Homo sapiens: one gene and its partners. The protein of the gene in region 1 interacts with the protein of each later gene in a pairwise test. Each region holds a gene or a part of one and is shown in the gene's direction. Other genes may lie near its edges. The genes, in order: ZNF410, POU6F2, POGZ and FAM9B.

What was found.
Region 2: the proteins of ZNF410 (region 1) and POU6F2 interact in binary tests that used the Homo sapiens proteins (3 or more experiments, as listed by UniProt).
Region 3: the proteins of ZNF410 (region 1) and POGZ interact in binary tests that used the Homo sapiens proteins (3 or more experiments, as listed by UniProt).
Region 4: the proteins of ZNF410 (region 1) and FAM9B interact in binary tests that used the Homo sapiens proteins (3 or more experiments, as listed by UniProt).

Annotation. Positions count from the first base shown.
Region 1 is NC_000014.9:73,917,852-73,924,884, forward strand, and holds part of ZNF410 (zinc finger protein 410), read left to right. Parts: intron 1-3,128; coding exon 3,129-3,254; intron 3,255-4,214; coding exon 4,215-4,355; intron 4,356-4,847; exon of another isoform or gene 4,848-4,885; intron 4,886-5,543; coding exon 5,544-5,671; intron 5,672-6,850; coding exon of another isoform or gene 6,851-6,952; exon of another isoform or gene 6,953-6,968; intron 6,969-7,033. UniProt on the Homo sapiens protein: Transcription factor that binds to the sequence motif 5'-CATCCCATAATA-3', and is specifically required to silence expression of fetal hemoglobin in adult erythroid cells.
Region 2 is NC_000007.14:39,463,883-39,469,108, forward strand, and holds the end of POU6F2 (POU domain, class 6, transcription factor 2), read left to right. Parts: intron 1-299; coding exon 300-804; 3' UTR 805-4,719; downstream 4,720-5,226. UniProt on the Homo sapiens protein: Probable transcription factor likely to be involved in early steps in the differentiation of amacrine and ganglion cells. Recognizes and binds to the DNA sequence 5'-ATGCAAAT-3'. Isoform 1 does not bind DNA.
Region 3 is NC_000001.11:151,449,482-151,456,514, reverse strand, and holds part of POGZ (pogo transposable element with ZNF domain), read left to right. Parts: intron 1-1,612; exon of another isoform or gene 1,613-2,488; intron 2,489-5,566; exon of another isoform or gene 5,567-5,605; intron 5,606-7,033. UniProt on the Homo sapiens protein: Plays a role in mitotic cell cycle progression and is involved in kinetochore assembly and mitotic sister chromatid cohesion.
Region 4 is NC_000023.11:9,024,113-9,031,145, reverse strand, and holds the end of FAM9B (protein FAM9B), read left to right. Parts: intron 1-549; coding exon of another isoform or gene 550-578; exon of another isoform or gene 579-785; coding exon 786-885; intron 886-1,727; coding exon 1,728-1,839; intron 1,840-3,179; coding exon 3,180-3,278; intron 3,279-5,562; coding exon 5,563-5,631; 3' UTR 5,632-5,662; intron 5,663-5,768; 3' UTR 5,769-6,914; downstream 6,915-7,033. UniProt on the Homo sapiens protein: May play a role in meiosis.

The DNA of each region.
Region 1 (7,033 bases):
AAGTGATTTTTAGTAGTAATATAATTATCCCTTGTTATCTGTGGTGTATAGGTTCCAGGACCCCACAGATACCAAAATCCACAAATACTCAAGTCTCTTACATAAAATGGCATGGTATTTGCATATAACCTACACATATCCTCCCATATGCTTTAAATCATCTCTAGATTACTGATAGTACCTAATACAACGTAAATGCTATGTGAATAGTTATGCTATATTGGTTATTTGTATTTTTTATTGCTATATTGTTATTTTTTATTTATTTATTTTTTTAGATGGAGTCTCGCTCTGTTGCCCAGGCTGGAGTGCAGTGGTCCACGATCTTGGCTCAATGAAACTTCCACCTCCTGGGTTCAAGTGATGCTCCTGCCTCAGCCTCCCAAGTAGCTGAGATTACAGGCATGTGCCTGGCTAATTTTTATATTTTTAGTAGAGACAGGGTTTCACCATGTTGGCCAGGTCTTGGAACTCCTGACCTCAAGTGATCTACCTGCCTTGGCCTCCCAAAGTACTAGGATTACAGGCATGAGCCACTGCGCCTGGCCTGTTATTTTTTATTTTTATTTTTTCTGAATATTTTTTATCTGCTTGGTTGAATCAATGGATGTGGATGGCCAACTATATATTCATAGTTTTACAGTTTTCTCTACTGTCCGACTCCACAACATTTCATCATCCCAAAAAGGATCCCCATATCCAGGAGATGATTAAAAAAAGAAAAAGAAGTCCCATTATTAGTATCATTGACCATGTCTCTCTTTCTCCAGCCCCTGGCAACCATTAATCTGCTTTCTGTGTCTGGATTTGCCTGTTCTGGACATTTCATATGGCCTTTTTTTTTTTTTTTTTTTTTTTTTTTTCCCCTAAACGGAGTCTTGCTGTCTCCCAGGCTGGAGTGCAGTGGCGTGATGTCGGCTCACTGCAAGCTCTGCCTCCTCGGTTCACGCCATTCTTCTGCCTCAGCGTACCGAGTAGCTGGGACTACAGGCGCCCGCCACCACGCCCGGCTACCTTTTTGTATTTTTAGTAGAGATGGGGTTTCACCGTGTTAGCCAGGATGGTCTTGATCTCCTGACCTCGTGATCCTCCCGCCTCAGCCTCCCAAAGTGCCTGGATTACAGGAGTAAGCCACCGTGCCCGGCCTTTTTTTTTTTTTTTTTTTTTTTTTTTTTTGACAGAGTCTCACTCTGGCTCAGGCTAGAGTGCAGTGGCATGATCTTGGCTCACTGCAACTTCCACCTCCTGGGTTCAAGCAATTCTCCTGCCTCAACCTCCCAAGCAGCTGGGATTATATGCGCCCGCCACCACGCCTAGCTAATTTTTGTAGAGATGCGGTTTCACTATGTTGGCCGGGCTGGTCTTGATCTCCTGACCTCAAGTAATCTGCCCGCCTCGGCCTCCCAAAGTGCTGGGATTACATGTGTGAACCACTGCACCTGGCTAAAATAAATTTATTTTAGATTCAGGGGGTACATGTGCAGGTTTGTTACAAGGGTATATTCCAAGATGCTGAAGTTTGGGCTACTAATGACCCTGTTGACCAAGCAGTGAACATAGTACCTGATAGGTAGTTTTTCAGCCCTTGCCCCGTAGCCGCTTTTGGAATCCCCAGTGTTTATTGTTCCCATCTTTGTGTCCATAAGTACCCAGTGTTTAGCTCCCGCTTATAAGTGAGAACATGGTGTTTGATTTTCTGTTTCTGTGTTAATTTGCTTAAGATAATGGCCTCCAGCTGCATCCATGTTGCTGCAGAGGACATGATTTTGTTCTTTTTTATGGCTGCATAGTATTTCATGGTGTGTATGTGCCACATTTTCTGTATCGTATTTACCATTGATGGGCACCTGGGTTGATTCCATGTCTTTGCTGTTGTGAATAGTGCTGCATTGAACATGTGAGGGCAAGTGTCTTTTTGGTAGAGCAGTTTATTTTCCTTTGGGTAGATAGCCAGTAATGGGATTGCTGGTTCAAATGGTGATTCAGTTTTTAGTTCTAAGCTTTGTAATATTCCACCCTGTTTCTATTGTATAGGTTTTTTTTTTTTTTTTTTTTTTTTTGCTATGCAGGACTACTGCAGTATCTATAGCTTTTTAGTCAGTCTCTGTGATGAATATTTACGTTGTTTCCAGTATTTAGCCATTTAAAATAATGTTGCCGTGATGAATAACCTTGTGCACAGAGTATTTCACATTTTGCTGCTGTAATTTTGGGACATATTCCTAGAAGTGGGATTCCTAGGTCAAAGGGCAAGTGCATCTACAATTTTTCTAGATCTGGTCAGATTCCCCCAAAGAGGTTTTTGTATTTTGCATTCCCAGCAAAATACAATCAGCAATGATGATTGCTGTACCATGTGTTTGTCAATTGTGAATTTGTTCCTAGCATTTAGAAATTGGGAGATTCTACTTAAAAATCCTTATTTCCAGTGTCTTAAAAAAAAATCAGAGAATCTGCCTTAATCTACCCATGGCAACAGTTGGCTAGAGCTGAATAACAGCTGCCCCTTTTCTAGGTACTCTCTAGGTTACTGCAGCCCCCACTTGGCCATTTTACTTACTTTTGCTACCTATCAGTCTCCTATAGACATGAGTTTTTGACCCCTGCTCTAAGTATGGTTTTCTGGGTAGGTAGAATGGAGACGGAGAGTTTGGGACTTGAAGACATAGAGGACAATTTAGATTATTATGTTGTAAGAGCCACCAGTGTGAATGTTGATGACCCTAAAGAGGGTGGCAGGGAATATGACAAGGGGATATTAGGAACACAGGATTGAAATCCTTGAGGAAAGCACATGTCCTAGAGGTCCATGGAAGACTAACTGAAAAAGAAGGCATATTTTTTGTGGTTGCCATGGTCCTATACCAAAGAGGTTTTGTGAAGGCAGCATTACAGAAGGTCTGGAAAGGACCAGCAGCTGGGAGCAGGGAGTGTGCTAAAGCCCTCCTGGTGTACTCTTCCTGCCTTCCCCCATATACTGAAGTTTGAGAGGCTGGGAAGGTGCGGAATGGGAAAAGGAGCAGCTGCTTATGTTCAGTTTAACATTCTCTGGGTTTCTCCATCTAGGTCTTGAGTTCATTCTCTTCCTGTCCTTTTGGCTTCCTTGTTTAACCTGGTCCCTGTTTCAGGAGAGAAGCCTCATCAGTGCCAAGTCTGTGGGAAGACCTTCTCTCAGAGTGGAAGCAGGAATGTGCATATGAGAAAGCATCACCTGCAGCTGGGAGCAGCTGGGAGTCAAGAGCAGGAGCAAACTGGTGAGGAGGGTGGGCATAGTGGAACGCTGTACTACTTCTAGGGTTCCAAGAGCCAAATCACTGTCCTGCCTGCTTATCTGGAAATTTTCTGATTCTGTTTTGGGTAGATAGACCTGGTCTCATTTGATGGGCTGATGGTTTCCAAACATAGCTATACAGTAGAATCATCTGCAACCTTTTAAAATTTATATACTTTTTGTTGCTTGTCCGCCCACCAATAAAACAAAGCAATCTGATAAATGAGATAATTTGCAAGATCCTAGAATCTGTAGTTTTAAAAGTTTCCCTAGTGAGTTTGATGGTAACTAGTGCTGATCCATGAACAAGCATTTGAGTAACACAGTGATAAAAGATTTCCACATGGGAAGAGTTTAAGCTTTTTAATTTTTTTAGATGGAGTCTTGCTTTGTCACCCAGGCTGGAGTGCAGTGGCGCCATCTCGACTCACTGCAACCTCTGCCTCCTGGGTTCAAGCAGTTTTCCTGCCTCAGCCTCTTGAGTAGCTGGGATTATAGGCAGGTGCCACCACACCTGGCTGATTTTTATATTTTTGTAGAGACGGGGTTTCACCATGTTGGCCAGGCTGGAAGCATATTTTATTTACCAGTCATGACTACCTTTTTGCCCTGCCTGAAATTTGATAACTCTTTTTAATTCTTATTCCTTCGCCATATCTTTCCTTAATTATTCCAAATATTCCTTTCTAAAGATCCACCTATCCTGTTTCATATGCTAATTCTTCAGACGCTGAACACAAGCAAGGATCATTATCTTCTAAGGCTTACTCTTTCCCTTCTAGGTTTATTCTTGTTTCTCGAAAGTAGGTGAAATAGGGGGTGGCATCCCATCTATAGGTTAACTTCTAGTAATGAAAGAGAAGGCCAGCTTCTGTTGAAAGAAAATGAGGACCAGGCACAGCCTTGATTGCTGTATGTCTCTCACAACCTATTCTCTGTGCAGCTGAGCCACTAATGGGCAGTAGTTTGCTTGAAGAGGCTTCAGTACCCAGTAAAAACCTGGTGTCTATGAATTCCCAGCCCAGCCTTGGTGGAGAGTCCTTGAACCTACCAAATACCAATTCTATCCTGGGAGTTGATGATGGTAAGACTTCCAACTCTCCTTTATTTGGGAAAAATGGGCTGCAACTAGGGGCTAAGGAATGGGGTGTCTCCACAATGTATGTTTAAATCTCATTTCTTATGAGTAGCTGTGGTATGAGTAGCATTTGTGTTCTTATTCTCTGGGGTGGATTAGTCAATCTGTTTAAAAAAAAATTTTTTTTCATTGAAGATAATATAATAAAAGAATAAAAAGAAAAAATTCTTAAGAAAAAATTATTCCTAATCCTAGCATCCTAGCCCAACTATTTCTATCTTTCCTATTGCAGTTATGGAAGAACTTAACTTTTAGAACATTTAAACAGAACATAACCAGGTTTTACAGAGGAGATATAAAGCAATTTCTCCATACCTTCAAAAGCCATATCTTCTGGAGAAAAGAAAGGGCTCTCTAGGAAACACTTGCTCCTCTCTGGTATAGAAATTTCACCCAAGTTACACAGGCCAGGCCCTCTTCTCTGAAAAACTTAACAGGTGAGGTCAGCATGCATTTATTCAGTGCCTACTGTGTGCCTGGCACCATGGGAAAGACAAAAGTAGAAGATAGGGACCTTAAAATCCAGTTGAGAAGTGAAAGCTTACATATATATGGGAAAGAACATTGAGTACATAAAAGATAGTATATAAGCCAACATTAAATTATATGGTACAGCATAAAATAGTTGTATAATCTAGAAAACCCCTAGAAGAAACTTCTAGTTTTTTGAGGGCTAAGTGGTATATCCATAAACTATTTCCAGAAGATTTTCATGGTGATCCCACTGATGAACATTTAGTAACTGTGAGACCCTATGTTTTTGTTACTCATATCATATTCAGTTAGTAAGTGCTATTAGTATCATTGGCGACTGCTTTTAAGGGTGGCTTTGGTTCCCTTACCTGCTTGCCTAAGACTTTTGCCTGTTTCATACATAGTTTTAATTCAGTTAAAAGTGCTAACACCATATTATTCTAAATCCTGTATTAAGATTTCTTGCCTTTCTATTCTCTTTTTATATTACTTTCCAAATTCACTGATAATGCTTATCAGACAGGATTAACTTGGAAGAAATAGAGGAATGTGGGAAATAGAGGAATAGAGTTTTAGAGTTGTTAATGAGAGGCTTAATGATCCAGATAGGTGTATCTCTGGATTCACTTTTCATTGAAACATTTTTCTGTTGCTTCACAGAGGTGCTTGCTGAAGGATCCCCACGTTCCCTGTCTTCAGTGCCTGATGTGACACATCACCTGGTGACCATGCAGTCAGGGAGGCAATCATATGAAGTTTCTGTCTTAACTGCAGTAAATCCACAAGAGGTAAAGTGGTCTCTTGCCCTTTGTTTCTGTGACAATTCATGTGGGGAATGATTGAGAATTTAGAGGACCTGAAAAAGTCTCCAGTTTCCATTTCCTGGAAACTTTGGCACGAATATTTTCCTTTAAATTAAGCATGAGTTCAGCTTGAAAGGAGCCTGAGGGTTAGGGTCTTAATGAATTGGAGATTGGTCTGTCACAGCTGGGACTCCCGGCTTTAAAGTTCTTTTATATACATTCCTTGTTGATGTCTGTTCCCACTATTCTCTGCCACACTATAACATGATACAGCTTTTATTTTATAAAAGCACACAGCAGGCACTGAATAAATGCATGTTGACCTCACCTGTTAAGTTATTCAGAGAAGAGGGCCTGGCCTGTGTAAATTGGGTGAAATTTCTGTACCAGACAGGAGCAAGTATTTCCTAGAGATCCCTTTCTTTTCTCCAGAAATAACATCCTGGAAAAAGTCCCTCAGCAAAAAAGGTAGTAACAAAATCATTAAACATAATTATTGTTCATTCTGCTATGGTCATATGTCTGGGAGATACCAGGCTTAACCAAATGGGCATATACAGATTTGTTCACTTGCTTGCTAAGTGAGAACCATTACCTAAATCAATGGTCTCCAGCCTTTTTGGCACCAGGGACCGGTTTCGTTTCACCTCAGGTCATCAGGCATTAGATTCTGATAAGGAGTGCGCAACCTAGATCCCTCAAATACACAGTTCACAATAGGGTTTGCGCTCCTATGAGAATCTGTTGCTGCTGCTGATCTGACAGGAGAGGTGGAGCTCAGGTGGTAATGCTTGCTCACCTGCTGCTCACCTCCTGCTGTGTGGCCTGGTTCCTAACAGGGCACGGACCAGTGCTGGTCCATGGCCTGGGGGTTGGTGACTTCTGATCTAAACAAAAAGGGTTTGAGGTTGAGCTAAAGCACTTTCAACTCTGTAGTTTGGCTTTGACTCAGGAAACAGAATGCAAAGTGGTCAGTGTTTTAAAATCTTGGGATATTTCACTGGTCTTGTGTCATGGGAGTGGATGACTTCATCACGAGCACATTTCATATGCATAAACTTTTGTCAAAACCTCTGTAGCTTGGATCCTTTCAGTATTACATTAGTTTTTATGGTGCTCTTCCGTCTTTTCTCCTCTTTTCTTTTCTTTTTTTTTTTGAGACAGAGTCTCGCTCCGTTGCCCAGGCTGGAGTGCAGTGGTGCGTTCTCGGCTCACTGCAACCTCTGCCTCCCAGGTTCAAGCGATTCTCCTGCCTCAGCCTCCTGAGTAGCTGCTACTACAGGTGCGTGCCACCACGCCCAGCTAATTTTTTTGTATTTTTAGTAGAGACAGGGTTTCACCATGTTG
Region 2 (5,226 bases), on another chromosome or scaffold:
CAGAGTTTATAGGGAAAAGGCCTGTGAGTTGTTTGCATGCCTATGATATGTTATGATAGCTCATGCATCCTGCTGTCTCTGCTTCTCATCACCCCTGTCTGTGCACCTGTGTGGTTTGCATGGTCTGGCATGGAGCACGCTGGGAGGGTGGGCGCTGGCTTGGGCAGGGCTGGCTACCTTGCAGCTGGCTATTAACCTGCAGTAAATTCGCCCTGCCAGGCAGTCAGGCAGGCAGGCAGGAGGCCCACCCTGGCAGAGGACTCAGTGTAAGACTGTTCTTTCTCAATTTTCCCCCCCAGACACACCATCCTGAGAAGCCACTTTTTCCTACCACAGGAAGCCCAAGAGAACACTATAGCTAGCAGTCTGACAGCCAAACTGAACCCTGGCCTTTTGTATCCTGCCAGGTTTGAAAAGCTGGACATCACCCCTAAAAGTGCCCAGAAGATCAAGCCGGTGCTTGAGCGGTGGATGGCTGAGGCTGAGGCCCGCCATCGAGCAGGTATGCAGAACCTGACCGAGTTTATCGGGAGTGAACCATCCAAAAAGCGCAAGCGGCGCACCTCCTTCACACCCCAGGCCCTTGAGATCCTCAATGCCCACTTTGAGAAGAACACACACCCTTCTGGGCAGGAAATGACCGAAATTGCTGAGAAGCTGAACTATGACCGAGAAGTAGTTAGAGTTTGGTTCTGCAATAAGAGGCAAGCCCTGAAGAACACAATTAAACGCTTAAAACAGCACGAGCCGGCCACGGCAGTCCCTTTGGAGCCCTTAACAGACTCTCTGGAAGAAAACTCCTAAAGAGATGCCCACCCATAATCAGAAGCAAAATTCACAGAAACTAAACTCCACCCTTGGGACTCCACAACAACAACAACAACAAAATTTAATTTAATTTAAAAATAGCCCCAGTCGTCATCACCCTTGTAAGTAAATGACTAAGAAAACTACCAAGTGGACAGAATGGTTTCTACATGTCCGTTGGTTTTCCAAAAAGGAAAGAAGAAAATTTTTAGAAAATTTTTAAACAAGGAATACACCACACTGAAGGTGTGTGTGGTAGGATAGTTCCCTTCCCCCACCTGTCTCCCCCAAAGCCAGTTTTTTAATGGACTTAAAGCAAACCAAATAACCACGTACTTTTTTCTGTATATTATGAAAATGTGAACACATTTTAAGGAAAAAGAAAAAAAAAAACTAAACCAAAAACCAACAACGAAGGAACAAAAACTTTGATCTGTTCAAAGCGAATACAAGCCTGCCACCTGGAGGAAGGACTGCACCCCTTCAGGTACTAAGTGCTGATTCACTATGAAACCTATTAACCAAAGTCAGAAACATGGCATTGCAACGCGATCGTTCGTCTACGCTTCTCCGCACGTAAAGTTGTGTTACGAATTTTTACATTTGTACTAACAGAACAATAGGAAGCCTGATTTCTCCCATCTTTCCCATCTACTGTCTCCACCCATGGGGTGGGTACCATTGTTGAAGCCATTCTGTGAGGCTCACTATTGGGTTTTTTTGTGGGGGTGGTAGGGAGGGTGGTCTTTTTTCTTTGTCTTTCTTTTTGACGGGAGGGCATCCTGGATCGTGTGCCAAAGCATTTGTTGCTTTTTTCTCACTATGACTTGTGGGTTTGAGAAAAGAAAATGGAGCTCGCATTTCTCTCTTTTCCTCCATTTCTCCATCTCCCTCGCGCGTGGCTCCTGGGGTCTGCTGGAAGGCCACAGAAGTGGGGAGAAGCAGTGTCTTTTCCACTCAGATCCTAGTGAAATGCAGGAGAGACTCCAAAATAACTAGGGCTTTGCTCGATGAACTGTCAACACTGGCATAAGCTGTAATTGTGCTCACTGTCCACACCAGAGCTTGGGATTTTTCTCAGTCTGTTGGCCACGTACATGGAGAGCTGACCAAAACTAATTTTGTAATATAAACATAAGCTGCACATTTGGTTCAATACTTACATCTATGTTATGCTTCTGTGCAAAGCAATTTCTCTCAGAAGTCTGATAGCCAAAGAAATGTCTCAAGATTTCAGTCAAATACACACATGACATGCACACACCCATAAACACACACACAAAGAAACAGGCTAAAAAGAAAGTGATAGCAACTGGATCATTAAAGGCCATCGTGTATCCTGTTAATCTCATCTTTTCTGCTACTTCTTTCATTCCAATAGCGATGGCAGACTTTTTTCAGGGGGAATAATTACTCTTCGGGATATATAAATGGAGCAGAAAGGTGGCGGGCAAATTTAAACAACTGGAATTGGGGGCCAGGTTCTTCAGGGGAAAGGAAGTTTGAAGAAGCTTTCACCAAAAGAAAAAAATATAGAAGGGGCTTATCTAACAATCAGAATAGCCTGCAATATGAGAACTAGAGGATTATTTCCTTTAAAAAAAATAACTTAAAAGATCTGTGGGCCACAATAACCTAATAAGCAAGGACATGTTGGGATGTGAGGACGGCTGTGCAGGTGAGCACTTGGCAGCTGCCACTGGTGTTTTCACCCAGGTACAGGCAGACGGTGTTCCATTAAAGGAGCAGGCAAAAGAGAGCTGTCAATTTGCTTGCTGTTGAAATGTACATATTTATGCATAATTTATAATCATGCTAATGTATTATCTAGAAGTAAGTTGTGAAAGAAAAAAGAGAAACCCAATCTCAAGTTGCCCAACTGATTAGAAATGCCATCTCCTTCCCCTAATACACTCCCTCTCCCTGGGGAGTTTGAGTTTCTTCTGTTGGCTCCTTTGCTGTTTGTGTAAATGCTACAGTATAATTGTCCCCTCCAATGATTCATGCAGCAATCAAGAGACTACCAGCAAGGAAACTCTAAAAGGAATCCTGGAAGTGGAACAAGTCACTCGTAAAGGTGTTTCCATTTTACCAGTCAATGCTAACTGGACCACAGCTAACTTGATCTTCAATGCCAACATCACAGAGCCCCTTTCGCCACCTCAAAAACTGCACAAACATGGACAACCCAGAAACCCAAAACTTTATTGATTAAAACAGATTTTGGATTCTCCTAGGACCTGCTCCAAATTCCATCAAGAAAAGCTCCCTGCGAAGAGAAGTTAACAAGATAACATATGATGGATGCTAAATATTTAAATATATGCCGGCAGCGGTTACATAAGGCCTGCTCAGTTCTGAGATCTATAATTGGGAGGGTCTAACTAGGACAGGGAAAATATAAAATAAAAGTAATCTTCCAGAGTGGAACAAAAAAGAAATATATTCATCCGACAGTCGTAACACCATTCATGTGCAGTGATTTTTTTATAGTTTTATAATTTTGTATTGTTTTATAAATTATTTATAAGGTGTTGTAATGCTTCTTATATTAATTTTTTACAGATAAATTTTTTGCTACAAGGCATAAAAAGGTGCCTGAACCGATTCTTAGGAATATAAATTATACTGTGTAACTCATAAGTCTTTGGGACCACACCTAATGCTTAATTTTATGATGACATTTCTCATGTCTACTTGTAAACAACTTCATATGCCAATGGCGTTTAAGTGTCTTTTATGTTTCCATGAACTGAAGGTTAAGGTTGCCACCCACAAAAAATAAAAGCCACTTTGGGCATATGTGATTGTATTTCAAGCTTCAGTATTTTTCTCACATAATTTTTAATTATTGTTATCTGCATTTTCATTACTTCATGAAAAAATGACAGTGGATATTACATTTTACACTTGTTTATAGATTTTCTTTCTTTTTCAACCAAGAAAATATTTTGAACAATTGAAACTTTTAATTGCATTTGCAAGGTTTTGGCTTCTTTATGTTGTCATCACACAGATGCACACACACATACACATACAACACAAAAGAGAGAACAAAAAAGCAAAAGGAGCTAGGAAAAAAACAAAACAAAACAAGTAGAGGTGTATCAAAGAACTCAAGCTATAACCAAAAAGAAATCGTAAAATGCCTTTGCTCGTTTCTCTACGCTGGACCAAAGCTCAATATTTGTAGGTATATGCACATTGTATAGATATGGCTAAATGTTGCTGACAATCTCGCAATACTAAACTGTTCCTATTTTAAGAAAAAAAAAAGAAATACAAACTGTTCATCAATGTTTTACCTCAGCACTCTACTTGTACCCAGTTAATGACCAAGCTTAAAAAAAAATTGAGATAAAGGAAATTGATTTTCATTTCAATGTTTGACTGTAAAATCTGTTTGGATAACATTTTGTAATGAGCTTTTTGTCATGTGATTTGCTTGTCTTCAACTTGAAATTATGTGAGGCACATTTGTTTATTTGTTGTTAAGAAAGTGATTTTTTTTTTTTTTTGTCCTATGTGCTGTGATCTAGACTGGTCACCGGGGTCACTTATGAGGCACCACAAAGAGATCTGCTTCTCCGTGCCCGGAGCAGGCAGCAGGAGGGAGGGCAGGAAACAGGACTGGGTTGCTTTGGAAAAATCATCATGACAAGAAGTTGACATGATAGACTTGTGACCAAGAAGCCAAACTGAATATTTAAAAGCTCCTTACTTGCTCTGACATTGAAACCAAAGCTGATTTTATCTGCACAGGTTGCTTAATATTTAAAAAAAAAAAAAACTGTACTTAATCTAGAGCAATATCTGTATGGTCAGTAAAGCTGCACTTTGTGTATTTCTTAACAGCTTCAGATCTGTCACTTTTAATTTGTACCATAAAAAATAAATAATTGTTTGACATGAGCTTCTAGGCTAAGTGTGTCTCACACTCAGATATGTCATTTAAGTTGTCAGCATTTTAAAAACTGTACATTAAAACCCCAAATGTTAAGGAAAGGAAGGGGTTCAAGACAGATTGGTTAATATCATGATTATTTTAACTTTTCAAATGACATATTGTATTCATTGGGACTCTTTTGGTTGCAAGTTATAGGAATTCAACTGAAACTTGCCTACACATAAAGGTACTGTGTTGTTTGACTTAATGGGAAGTTCCGTTGTGGACCTGAAGCACAGCTGGATTCAGTGGTTTCAAAGATGTCATCAGCCTGTCCTGCTTGGCTTCCTTCTCAGATGGATTCTCTAACCATTGACTCTAAGGCTTTGAATCATTGCGCCCTTCTCTAAACTAAGCACTGGTGCTGCGGGGTGATGCACATAAATTCATGGTCACAGGCTCATTCCTGTCTGTGGGGGGAGGGTGGGGCCTCACTCTGACGACCCTGTGGGACCACAAGGATTGAAAGAGGA
Region 3 (7,033 bases), on another chromosome or scaffold:
TTATTTCATGGAGTAGCATTTTTACTTGAAAGAACGACTAGCAGACTATGGTTTTTCACACTTAGTATTTGGCAGATATTTCTTGAAAATGAAGTGAGCTTGTCACTTTTAGGAAAACAACTGACAGTATTTATTACCAGTGATAAAATTTGGGTGAAAATTAGAATTTTTAAAAAGTTGACAGCTGGAGTTTGACAGCTTCCTAGTACTTAAAAGACTTTCCTTATGATATCAGTGGTTAAGGACTGCAATATTTTAAAATGTTGTTTAATGAAATATGTTATTTGGAAGATGGGCATAACTCAGTAAATCTAGGCTTTGCAAATGACCAATGCATGATGTTGCAAAATCAAGCAAAGGCAAAAGATCCTTTGAAAATTCCAGACATAGCAATGGATTTTAACAGTAAAAAAGTGGATTGATGTGGTTTCAGATTCCAAAATGTTAACTGTCCTTTAAGAAACTACTATTTGGCCTAGCGTGGTGGCTCACTCCTGTAATCCCAGCACTTTGGGAGGCCAAGGTGGAAGGATTGTGTGAGCCCAGGAGTTGGAGTTGAGCCTGGTCAGCATAGTGAGACCCTGTCTCTATTTATTAAAAAAAAAAAAAAAAAAAAAAAAGAAAGAAACTACCGTTTGTTGAGTTTTAGTATTTACCAAACACAGTTATCTGAAAAGGTTATTAAAATACTTCTCCCTTTTCCGACTAGATTTTCATTATATACTTAACCAAAGCTACATATAGCAACAGACTGAATGCAGAAGTAACTGTGAGAATCCAACCATCTTTTATCAAGTTAGACATAAAAGAGATTTGCAAAATGCAAAACAACGTTACTTTTCTCACTTTTTGGAGGGAAAGTATTTTTTGTTGAAATGTTATTTATGTTAACTTATAATGGGCTTGTCTTAAAATACATTGATAAATACTACATTTTAAAAATTTGTGGTAAATGTGGAAAGATAAAATTCACATAAACAAAAGATCTTTGGCGTCTTCAATAATTTTAAGAGTCAAAAAAATGAGAATCATTCAGTCAGTCCTATGTTTCTGCTCTTTACATCATTCAAATCTAACTCCCTTGGGGAACTTGGGAGAATTTATAAATAGTTGAAGTTGATGGAAGAGGCAGTGACCTGGGGAAGAATTCTAAAGCAAAAAAAGCTTGCTTTGAATCCTAACTGGGATATTTACTAACTGTAACCTTGAGGAAGTTACTTCGTCTCTCTAAACCACTGTTTTGACCTTATCTGTAAAATAAAAACTTTAGAGCTGGTTGATTACAAATCCTAGAGCTGGTTAATGCCTTTGCCATAATATCAATATGGTAACATTTTGATAGATTCTTTGGTATTCTTGTTTGTGATATTAAGCCATATTCACAAAAACTTGTCTTTTTTTTTTTTTTGAGATGGAGTCTCGCTCTATTGCCCAGGCTGGAGCGTAATGGCGCAATCTCGGCTCACTGCACCCTCCGCCTCCTGGGTTCAAGCGATTCTCCTCCTTCAGCTTCCTCAGTAGCTGGGATTACAGGCACGCGCCACCACACCTGGGTAATTTTTGTATTTTTCTAGAGATGGGGTTTCACCATATTGATCAGGCTGGTCTCAAACTCCTGACCTCTTGATCGACCCGCCTTGGCCTCCCAAAGTGCTGGGATTACAGGCGTGAGCCACCACGCCCAACTGAAAAACGTATTTTTATATGTAACCAAGGGGAGGAGAGCAGAAAAGAGACACTAACCTATTGCTAGGTGTTAGCAGAGTTAAAAGAAATTGAAAGCATAGAAATGGAATTTAGGCAACACACAGCTGTCATTGAAGAAAAGTTTTCCATCATAGTATAGATATTTTTCTTGGGAAAGGGACTCCTGAATATTGAACCCCTTTAAAGAAGAGAACTTGTTGCTTACTTGTTTTAGTAAAGAGCACAGAACTAAATATTTGGGTGTTTCTTGATACAGGATTGGCTACCAGACAAGAGGAAAGTATTTTGAGTTTGGAAATTTTAGGTTATTAAGACTACTTAAAACCCTTATGATTCTTACATATGAGGTACTATAACAGATGTTGTGAGGGACAAAATGGGCTGTGCAAAAGACTGGATAAATAAAAGCTTATTACATGTTTAACTATAGTTTTATACACAGATTAAGTATTCAGCCCTATAGGTTTTCTGGTATTAGTCCTTTTTAGAGCCAAAAATTGAGGTAACTTGAAAACATAATTACCAGTTATGTTGAGGATTATCATTGTTTATTTTTCACCCTGGAACAAGAAAGTGGTATTCTTAAAATGTTTGTTTTCTGTAAAATATTTTTCCTGTTCCAAATGTTCTTTTTATGTTGATTTTTGGGCAGGTATGTACTGGCAGTAAGTTGAAAACGTTAGATACCAAATTCTTCATTTCTGAATTCTTCATTCTTCATTTCTGGACTTTACAGCTATGAAAGAACAAGACAAAGGAATTCAGAGCTTTCAAGAACCAAGTATGTCAGGATAGTTGTGGAAAACAGATCTTTTTCTCATTTTCTTTGAGATGAAGATAGGCAACATTTGCTGCCCATTAAATACCTTAAAAGTATACAGGTGTATCTGCAGGATTCTTTTTGCTGCTTTTAAATAGTATATTGTTTTAAAAGGTCTGTTTTTATCTTGCCTTTACAATTATATAGACTTTTATTGACTAGCTGATCATATAGGGCCTTAGTATAGACTACCATATTCGCCAGCATTTAAGAAATAGTCCCCTTCCCTCCAGGAGAGTATTTATCTGGTACTCCCATATTATGGATTGAAGGATGAGACAAGAGACTGAGTATTGCTAATAGTTCTGTGTGAGCCTGCAGTGTTAAGTAAAACCTATTGAGTGCACAAAAAAATCATGTTACAATTACTACAAAATAGAGAAACCACCTAGGTTACCAAGATGTCAAATAATGGATTAATGGAAGAAAGTAATGTACCTCCTTGGTAGCCTACATAATCCACCTTAATTTGTTATTTCTTATTTAACTATTTTGCTATGTCTTAAGAAATGTATATTAAGTGAAAATGGATGCATAAAAATAAAAAAAGAGAAATGTATATATACAAGCTACATGAAAATTGGTCCTGGGAATAAATCAAGAAATTCAACCAACAAGGCTACCAGTTATTTAGTAAATACCAAAGAGATAGGTGGAATGTAGCAGTACAGAATATCACAGCTAAGATATGAGTAGGTAGTTCCACTCCCTCCTACCCCACCTCAGTTTTTATTAAGAAAATTTCACGCATGCGAAAAGGGAGAAAGAGGCTGGGCGCAGTGGCTCACACCTGTAACCGAAGCACTTTGGGAGGCCAAGATGGGCGGATCACAAGGTCAGGAGTTCAAGACCAGCCTGACCAACATGGTGAAACCTGTCTCTACTAAAAATACAAAAATTAGCTGGGCGTTGTGGCGCATGCATGTAATCCCAGCTACTCAGGAGGCTGAGGCAGGAAAATCACTTGAACCTGGGAGGTGGAGGTTGCAGTGAGCCAAGATCACTCCAGCCTGGGCAACTGAGCGAGACTCCATCACAAAAAGAAGAAAAAAGAAAAGGGTGAAAGAATTCTACAAGGAACACTTAAACTATCCACCACCTAGACAGAGTGACTTTTTTTTTTTAAGACAGAGTCTCGCTCTGTTGCCTAGACTAGAGTGCAGTGGCACAATCTTGGCTCACTGCAACCTCTGCCTCCCGAATTCAAGCGATTATCCTGCCTCAGCCTTCCGAGTAGCTGGGACTGCAGGCACCAGCCACCACGCATGGCTAATTTTTGTATTTTTAGTAGAGACGGGGTTTCACTGTGTTGGCCAGGCTGGTCTCGAACTCCTGTCCTTGTGATCCGCCTGCATTGGCCTCCCAAAGTGCTGGGATTACAGGCGTGAGCCACTGCGCCTGGTGACAGGATGATTTTTAATGTTTTGGCCCATGCCAAATATTTTTTGAAAGTTGGCATACTAGTATCTATAAGAAAATATCAAAATAGCCCACCTGTAGTGACAACTACTTGGGAGGCTGAGGCAGGAGGATCACCTGAGCCCAGGAGGTTGAGGCTGCAATAAGCCGTGATTGTGCCACTGCACTCCAGCCTGGGGGATAGAATGACACCCTGTCTCAAAAAAAAAAGCCAAATATCTATGTATTTGCTTAACCCCTTGAAAGTCACTTTCAAGATATTTCTATTAAATATTTTGTGCATTTCCTAGGAATAAATACATTCTCCTACATGAATATAATATGATTATCCTTTCTGTTTAAAAATTTTTTAGAGGGATCGGTTCTGTTTCCCAGATTGGTCTTGAACTCCTGACCTTAAGCAATCCTACCACCTTGGCCTGCCACCATGCCCGGCCAACATTGACTTTTTTTTTTTTTTTTTTTTTTTTTGAGACGGAGTCTTGCTCTTGTTGCCCAGGCTGGAGTGCAATTGCACCATCTCGGCTCACTGCAACCTCCACCTCCCGGGTTCAAGCAATTCTCCTGTCTCAGCCTCCTGAGTAGCTGGGATTACAGGTGCCCACCACCACGCCCGGCTAATTTTTGTATTTTTAGTAGAGACTGGGTTTCATCATATTGGTCAGGCTGGTCTCGAACTCCTGATCTGAGGTGATCCACCTGCCTTGGCCTCCCAAAGTGCTGGGATTACAGGCGTGAGCCACCGCGTCCAGCCGAACATTGACATTTTTAAAGAGACTTCTATTAGTTTTATAGAATGTTCCATATTCTGCATTTGATTATTTCCTTCTAGAATGTCCCACCTTCTGGATTTATCTCATTATTTCTTTGTGGTGATACTTAATTTGTTCTTTTATTGCTGTATTTCTTGTAAACGCAAAGTTACATTTAAATAATGGATTTGGGCCAGGCGCGGTGCCTCACACCTGTAATCCCAGCACTTTGGGAGACTGAGGCGGGTGGATCACCTGAGGTCAGGAGTTGAAGACCAGCCTGACCAACATGATGAAACCCCATCTCTACTAAAAGTACAAAATGAGCCAGGCATGGTAACGCATGCCTGTAATTACAGCTCCTTGAGAGGCTGAAGCAAGAGAATCGCTTGCACCCAGGAGGTGAAGGTTGCAGTGAGCTGAGATCGCGCCATTGGGCTCCAGCCTGGGCAACAAGAGTGAAACTCCATCTCAAAAAATTTAAAAAAAAATAAAATAAATAAATAATTGATTTGATTCAGGTTAAATATTATTGTCAGTAATACTTCATACATTGTTTTTGGCTTTTCTTGTGTATTTGTTTGCAAAAAAATGCCATAGACAAAACAGCTGATAACTAATGTGAATTATTAGTCAGTAGTTTATTGGTTAATGTTTTTCTTTTTTCTTTCCCTTTGAGGCAGTCTCCTGTCTCAGCCTCCTGAATAGCTGGGATTACAGGCGTGTGCCACCACACCTGGCTAATTTTTGTATTTTTTTTTTTTAGTAGAGACGGGGTTTCACCACATCTCTGGTCATGGTCATGGCCAGGCTGGTTTTGAACTCCTGACCTCAAGTGATCCACCCACCTCGGCCTCCCAAAGTGCTGGGATTACAGGCGTGAGCCACTGCACCGGTCCTGGCTAAGGTTTTTCTATTTAAACATATTACAATCATAACCTTTGGCTTTTGAGATACAGAGCTACTGTAACTTTTAAGTTCAACCATAAATAAGATTTTTGAGGAAGAACATAGAAATAGGTTTCCATTTTGTCACTTTGAGGCATTGCCCTCTGCAAAAATGATTTGAAAGTTGAAGAAGCTAGAAGAGTTTATATGTAGCAAAAGTAACCTGTAGAGGAATTGTAAAGGGGCCACAACAAGAAAAAATTTAGAACTGGGGAGGCTGGGCACGACTGCTCATGCCTGTAAAACCCAGCACTTTGGGAGACCAAGGCAAGCAGATCACTTGAGTCCTGAAGTTCAAGACCAGCCTGGGCAATATGGCAAAACTCTAGCTTTATAGAAAATACAAAAATTAACCAGGCGTGGTAGCACATGCCTGTAGTCCCAGCTACTTGGGAGGCTGAGACGGGAGGATTGCTTGAGCCCAAGAGGTCGAGGCTGCAGTGAGTTGAGATCGCGCCACTGCACTACAGCCCAGGCGACAAAGACCCTGTGACCTAAAAGTTGTCAGATGAATATGAAGATAAAATCAAGTTCCTGGCTGGGTGCTGTGGCTCATACTTGTAATCCCAGCACTTTGGGGAGGCCAAGGCAGGTGGATCACCTGAGGTCAGGAGTTCAAGACCAGCCTGGCCAATATGGTGAAAACCCATCTCTACTAAAAATACAAAAACTAGCCAGCCGTGGTGGTGGGCACCTGTAGTCCCAGCTACTTGGGAGACTGAAACAGGAGAATTACTTGTACCCGGTAGGCGGAGGTTGCAGTGAGCCGAGATCGTGCCTCTGCGCTGCAGCCTGGGTGACAGAGCAAGACTCCGTCTCAAAAAAAAAAAAAAAAAAAAAAAAAATCAAGTTTCACAGGTAGGTGATTATAGGATGAAACAGACTAGATATATATGGATTTTATAAAAAAATTTTTAACATACAAGATATAACCATTTGAATAATTCATAAGAACCTTGTTCTGCTCTCTTGCAGAGTTTTTGAGACGGAGTCTCGCACTGTCTCCCAGGCTGGAGTGCAGTGGTGCAGTCTGCAAGCTGCATCTCCCAGGTTCATGCCATTCTCCTGCCCCAGCCTCCCGAGTAGCTGGGATTACAGGCGGCCGCCACCACGCCTGGCTAATTTTTTGTATTTTTAATAGAGACGGGGTTTCACCGTGTTAGCCAGGATGGTCTTGATCTCCTGACCTCGTGATCCGCCCACCTCGGCCTCCCAAAGTGCTGGGATTACAGGCGTGAGCCACTGTGCCTGGCCTGAGAGGACAAATATTTTTAAAAAGAAATGATAGTTCTTTATGTATAGAATGTGGGATGATTTTTTTTTAATTGCCCTCGTTTTCAGAACATGTATTCAGTTTGATCAGTGATTTTCAGTCTTGGCACTATTG
Region 4 (7,033 bases), on another chromosome or scaffold:
GCATTATAGATGGAGACTGTATGTAAAAAATATTTGCATTGTGGTACAAATCTTTTATGATTGCTGAAAATTATTCTTAGCAATTGATGGTAGAGCTCTGATGTGAAATCATGTTTAGGAAAGCATTCCTTGCAGTATTACAGTTTTCTGAAACACAGCACTATGGGTACAAATGTCATAAAAAGCTCCAAGAAAACATTTCAAAAGTGTTTTTGAATGTATTTCTTTACCTAAACCTAAATTTTTATACTCATGGCCATTGCTTCTTTTATTAAAATACAGTTAATAGCATCAATCACTAGATTGCTTAAAAATGCTTTTCTTATTGTGCATTAAGTTATTTCTACCCTTTTGAGGGTTCTATTATATAAGATACTTTTTTGTGTGCTTTACGTAATGAATTGTGCAGTATTTCATGGAAGCATCTCCTTTGAATTGTAGGACATTTTATAAATGTAGAAATTAAAGTCTGTGCTTATAACTCTTTCTGCACATTTAAAAAATAGAGACTTTTAATTATTTGCTTTTTTTCATCATCTGTCAATTAAGTGATTTTCAGTTATACCAACTGGAATTGAAATGCGAATGTTAATACCTGAAAGGTTTTACAGAAAATAAGTGAGTAAATCTTGCTTTTTGAAATGATCTTTGCATTTTATATTTTAAATATCCTTCTGAAATTGCTGAACCATAAAGTCCCATATTGATGTCAGTATATGCAAAGAAACTACTTTTCAACATTAACTTTTAATCCATTTTCATTTACTATCTAACTGACATTAAAGAGGATCTTACTGCAAAAAGAAAAAGGATGAAAATGGATAAAACTTGCAGCAAAACAAAGAACAAAAGTAAACATGCTTTGAGAAAAAAGCAACTTAAAAGGTATGACTGTTGGCTTTTTTGCATAATGATATTTATATCATTTCTTTGTATTAGTTGGTGCAAATAATTTCAAAAACTATCCTGTACATATTGGCGTCTCTAGTGAACAACATATTTTACTTGATTGTTCTCTAAGTAGGTAAGTTTCTTTAGTTTTATAACCTCAGTTTAACAGAATTAAGAGATATTACCTAGAAGCCAATGAAGATGACCTCTTTTTGCCTTCCAGATAAAAATAGCCTTCTTGTAAAATTAATGTTTATCCATTTCTAGAAATATGGTAGCTGCATATAAGATAAATGTTCTCAATGTTTAGTCTGTAGATCCTTAACGATACTCAATTATGTAGAAAGGGATAACCTTATGTTGTAAATAAGTTATCTATTTTAGTTAAATTGTTTTCACTATTTCTTTTACAAAATCATTGGTGTGCCAAAGTGGAGAAATAGTTAAGTGAAGTTTTTCTTTTGGGAAATCTTATGGGATGAATGGCTATGATATTCTTGAACCTACTTATGAGAACCCATATGTTATTCAGTAAGAGGAAATGGAAAGTAAACTGCTCTTAGAGAAAATGTTTCTGGGAAAGTTATAGTGCAGTAAACCCTCCTTTGTCTTCAGCAGGTAAAGAATGTAAGATAGCTGCTCTAGTAGTCAGGAAGAAAAGAATCCTTTCAAAATGAGAGTAACTCATTTCACTTTTTTCCAAAAAGAAGATTTCAGCTGCTATTACTCCCTTGCTACTTTATAGTATAAATTATGTCAAGTCAGTTTGGGTTTGAATAGGATTAATTTTTCATCTCTCTATGACGTATGACCGTGTTACTTATTATGTGTTACAGGCAGAAACGTGATTATATACATTCTCTGAAGTTGCTAAATGTCCTTGAAGAATACATCACAGACGAGCAGAAAGAGGAAGAAGAAGAAGAGGGAGAAGAGGAAGAACTAATTGTTGGTATCATGCTTAGCTTTATGTATAACCTGTTATGTCAGTGTCTCAGGTAGTAATAGTTCATGCAGAAATCCAGCAAAGAAGGAAGAGCGCATGAGCCCAGAGAGGGGGGCCCGTTAGTGGACTAATGGACTAGGGGAATATAATTGCCACGCAGCATTAGGGGTCCAACTGAAGTCAGCATCATAACGATGAAGAAGTTAAAGTAAGCCCAGTTGGCATATTTGTGCAAGCACAGCTGTAGGGTTGGAATTTCCTGGGTCGGGGTGTAGCCGAGCAGATTGATAGAGGGAGAGTTGGGCAGGGAATAGATGCAGAGATGGGGATATGATGACTGGCTGTGGAATTTCAGCTGGGACTGAGTTATCTGAGCACACGGGAGTGGGCAATGGGCAGTAAAAAGTGCTCCATTCAGTGGGTGTCAGGTCCCAACAGACTCCTGAGCTGTAGTACTGAAGTGAGTGACCTACGATGGCAGGGAGGTAGTGGCTGTATGTTGGGAAGTTGGAGAAACAGCTGAGTGCAGTGGTCAAGGGCTGGGACTATGCATCCACACTGCTTGGGATTCTAGCTTGACCATTGCTAGCTCGGAAACCATGGAAAAATTATTTATCTCAGCTTGACCATTGCTAGCTCGGAAACCATGGGCAAATTATCTTATCTACGAAAGGAGACATGGTAAGAGTACCTACGTCAGAGTTGTTTGGAGGATCAAAGGGTTTCTGTGTAACAGGTTTATTTAAGTTTTTCAGGATGTGATCTGACCCATGGTTGCTCTTTATCATTGCTATTATTAATATTACGTAGGTGTTGAAGTCATTGGGAATGACAAAATCTAGGGGATGACTGTGTGAGTGAGTGCCACGTAGAGGAGAGGAGAACACTGTTGTTGGAGATTAGGTCAGGGTGCAGAAAGGCAATCATTATTGGGTGGTTCATCTATGTGCATATTGAAATGACCGAGATTTAATACATGCTTAAAATCTTAGAAAGAATTTTTCTTAGTTAATTTCTGTATAGATCTTACCTATCTGTGGTCAACAAATTATAGGAAGGTTCATCAAATACTCTTCATTGGAAATCAAGAATTAGGACATATGTGTTGAATGTGTAAAAGTAAGAAAATTCTTTACTTAATGACTGATAAAAAAGGTTAATACATCATTTTAGCATGTTATTGGTGAACACAATTGTTTAAAATTGGTCCTAAATGTTGTCTAAAAGAAAGTGTTCAGAGGTATTGATTTAAACAGTATTCCTTTAAAGCTAATGCAGAATTATGTTTTGTAAGTATTAAAATTTACCCAATTTTTATCACTATTTTGTTTTGGGATTCTAGAGAATATTTCAAGAACAACAGAAGAAGTGGCAACAATATAGAAGTGTTAGGAGAGAGAGGCTGAAAGAGATGAAGCTGCTACGTGACCAATTCGTAAAGGTCTGTTCTATTTGGTAACATAATACATTATAAAATACAACACGTGCATAATAGAAGACAGTCTGCTTGTTTCTGAATGTATGGAAAGACATTTGATTATACATTTCAAATTACTTAGCATTTTCACTTTGAATGTATTGTTCCAGATATAATATAATTGGTAAATGTATTTTTAGGATTCATGAATAGTTTGTGGGAGTTATTTAGAACAGGAAAAGGTAAATTGGAAATTTTACCTAGAAATACACATCTTATGTATAAAATTGACACTTTATTAACACATTAACCTATTTATGCCAGAGGTTGCAAATTTTTTTTGTGTGTGAAAAATCAGACCTTGGCCATGACCTTGAGCAGTAGGATATATATGATTCCCACAAGCTTAGCGTTCCAATAATGGAACACTAGGCATAAATGGGTTTTAATGAAGATTTTATTTTCAGTTTTCAGGACATCAATGACAAATCTATGGTGGAAGGCAAGAGGTCCATAAATCCTTTCTGGATGGCTTTTTTACTTGTGTTGTTTCAAGAGTTTTAGTTAAATAGGAAGTAGGCAAGCGTAACTACTGTGTGTCTTTTTTATTTCTTGCTGAAACACAGGAGTGTTTTATGGCATATTCACTTACAAAATTATTAGTAATGGTTCTACATGACAATTTGTAATCATAAGAGATGGTTCAGATGTATAACAGAATGGGAAAGCCAGCAGATTATTAACACGTTGTGAATTGCGAATTATCTGCTGTTGTACAGCACATTAGCAAATTATCATCAGACAATGACCTCTTCTTCATGTAGATGTAGATAATTTAGGAAGCAGTGGAATCTTTTTTGGGGAGATCTGGTATTCTTTTTAATAACCTTGGAAAAGACATGTTCATATGTCACTTCTCTACACTAACTGAGATGTGTTAAATAAACTGGGAAAAGAGTTTGAAAATAAAATTTTCAAGCAACTTGAGGATTATCTATACACAAACAGTTATTTAAATAGAAGTTACAAGTAGAGAACATGTTGCTATAATGTTCTCCAGATACCATTTATTAATTGGTATGAACATGAGACTAGTAGTTTTCCTGTCAGTATTAATGTTTCATGTTACCACTTAGGTTAGGAACTTTGCTATCATCTTGGACTCTTCTGAGTTCATTATCCTTCCCATGTAGTTATCACGAGGCAAGTTTTACCTCTGCAATGGTCCTTTAATTTCTTTCTTTAAATTCCCACTGCGGCTACCCTAGTCCAAGACCTCATTCTTCCTTACCTGTACTATTAAACTCTTTTCTGAGTTCTCTCTTCTCTTCTGAGCCATCCTTCATTGATTGGCAATATTATCTTTCTAAAACCCTTCCCTTCCTAAAATGCTTCCCAGCCCTTCCGTCTTCCCAGCCTGTCAGTGATGCCCCGTCTCAGTTCTTAGATATTCAGAGACTCTCCCCTTTACATGACCCCCTCTTAGGCTTGTTTTGCCGCCTTCTGTCTTTCCTCCCACTTCTCCAGGTTGACCGCCTTCCCTGAAGGAACTCACCGTTACTCCCATGCTTTGCTCATGCTCTTCCCTCACAATACTTTTAAAATCTTTTTTTGACTGATTGAAACCTTTCGCCAACTAAATCAACATCAGTCTCCATTTTTGGCTACATGCCCGAGTGAGTTGCCCTTCCATAGCAGTTACACAAGTTTTGTATTACTTGTTTTTTATTTGTGCATTTGCTCATGTCATAGAAATACGGAAGATTGTGTATTCATTTTTTACATCTTCCTCAGCATTAACCTACAACATTTTAGGGAGTAGGAACTGTTGAACTATTTGTTGAGTAAAGAGTATATATTTCAAACACAGTTACGTTTTCTCTAACTTGATGAGGTCATATCACCAACCATTTTATCCCTTCAATGGAAACCATGTTATGTAGGCTATTGCTGATAATACATGGGTCGCTACCTGCTGAAAAAAAATATAATATTTCATGATATAAGCCTGCCCGTCTTTTTCTGTCTTCGCTCCATCTTGACCTTAAGATGTTCTTCAACCCATTTTATTTAAGCAAAGTACATGACTGTTAGACCTGCTAAAATAATATGTCACTGAAATCTGGCATTAAAAAATTTAATTGGGTATTTGGAGCTCCATGTATTGATTATAGTTTTTTCTATTTGAAATGAATAACTGGCATCCTTTGAATATTAAAAGCTGTTTCCTTTTGACATTTAATTAACCCTGTTTAAAATGCGAGATATAAAGTGGTGGTTTGTCAGTGAACTAGACTTTTTCTTTTAGGCTCTTGAGGACTTTGAAGACCTTTGTGACAGAGTTTTTTCCGATGAAGACAGTGAACTTGATAACTAGACATGTTTTTAAATAAAATCATGTCAGAACTGTAAGTAGTGCATATTTAATATTAAAAACTCAGGATTGATGTAGCACTGGAATATTTTATTTGCAGAAATGTGTATTACAGTTACTTAAATTTTTTTTTGAAACAGCTTTTGGAAAAGTTGGCACTTACCCAGTTGTCTCTTCAACCTCTGTTATTCTGATGACTGAAGAAAGAACTTGAACCTATGTTATATGATACAAGCACAACTTGAGCTACAGTAAACTACATGACAGTGTTTTGATAATTGTTGTATAAATCGGTATAGCTCCTCTGTCACTCGTCTGTTAAATGCCAGACCTCGTTTCTATGATCTGTTGAATGAATCCTAGACACTTCTGTGAGAAAGCAGGGATTGCATAGTTATGTACACGGTCAATTAAATTTTAACATTAAAGATAATTTAGATTTCGATTTGGCCTCTGTGGATTTGTATCAGTTCCAAAAATGTAGAAAGCACAGGCATAGAAAAGTACATTTTTCTCTAATAAAAGAAGACAATATCTGCTGGGTGTGGTGGCTCACGCCTGTAATCCCAGCACTTTGGGAGGCCGAGGGGAGTGGATCACTTGAGGTCAGGAGTTTGAGACCAGCCTGGCCAACATGGTGAAACCCCATCTCTGCTAAAAATACCAAAATTACCCGGGCGTGGTGGCACGCACGTGTAGTTCCAGCTACTCAGGAAGCTGAGGCAGGAGGATCTCTTGAACCCGGGAGTTGGAGGTTGCAGTAAGCCAAGATTGTGCCACTGCACTCCAGCCTGGGCGACAGAGCAAGACTCTTTCTCAGAAAACAAGAAGAAGAAGACAAAAGCTATCTTATCTGTGCGTTCTTTTGTATTTACTCATTAGGATAAAGAGGCAATTCCAATGAAAGTAGGACTTCAAAAAATAGATATACTCTATGGCCATATCAAAATTATTAAAAGCACCTTACTGTCTGTGTTCTTAAAAAAAATTATACTGCTGTAAATGATTAAGGCAACTGAGCAAGATATATTAATATCAGTGCTGAGCCACTGGTTTGTGGGTATGTCATTTCCACAGACATCAAAATGCTATTTAGTTTGTTTTGGTCCATCATTCAATGATACCTCCCCTTAGAATTGAATGAAAGCATTTTGTTAACATTTATGTATGCTTACAATTATTTCACATCTGTGGCAAGGTAAATTTTGTAGAGTGCTTTGTTTATCCAGTTTAATATTCGTGGATTATGTGGAAGTTTATATGGACATCTAAAAACTTGAATGATGAATTCGCCTGCCTTTCCTTTTTTTAATGTGCAGTTTTCACATGTAACAACATATAACAAACATGTAAAAAGATTTTTTGCATGTAACATGTTAAAAAGATGTACATGTTTTTACATGTA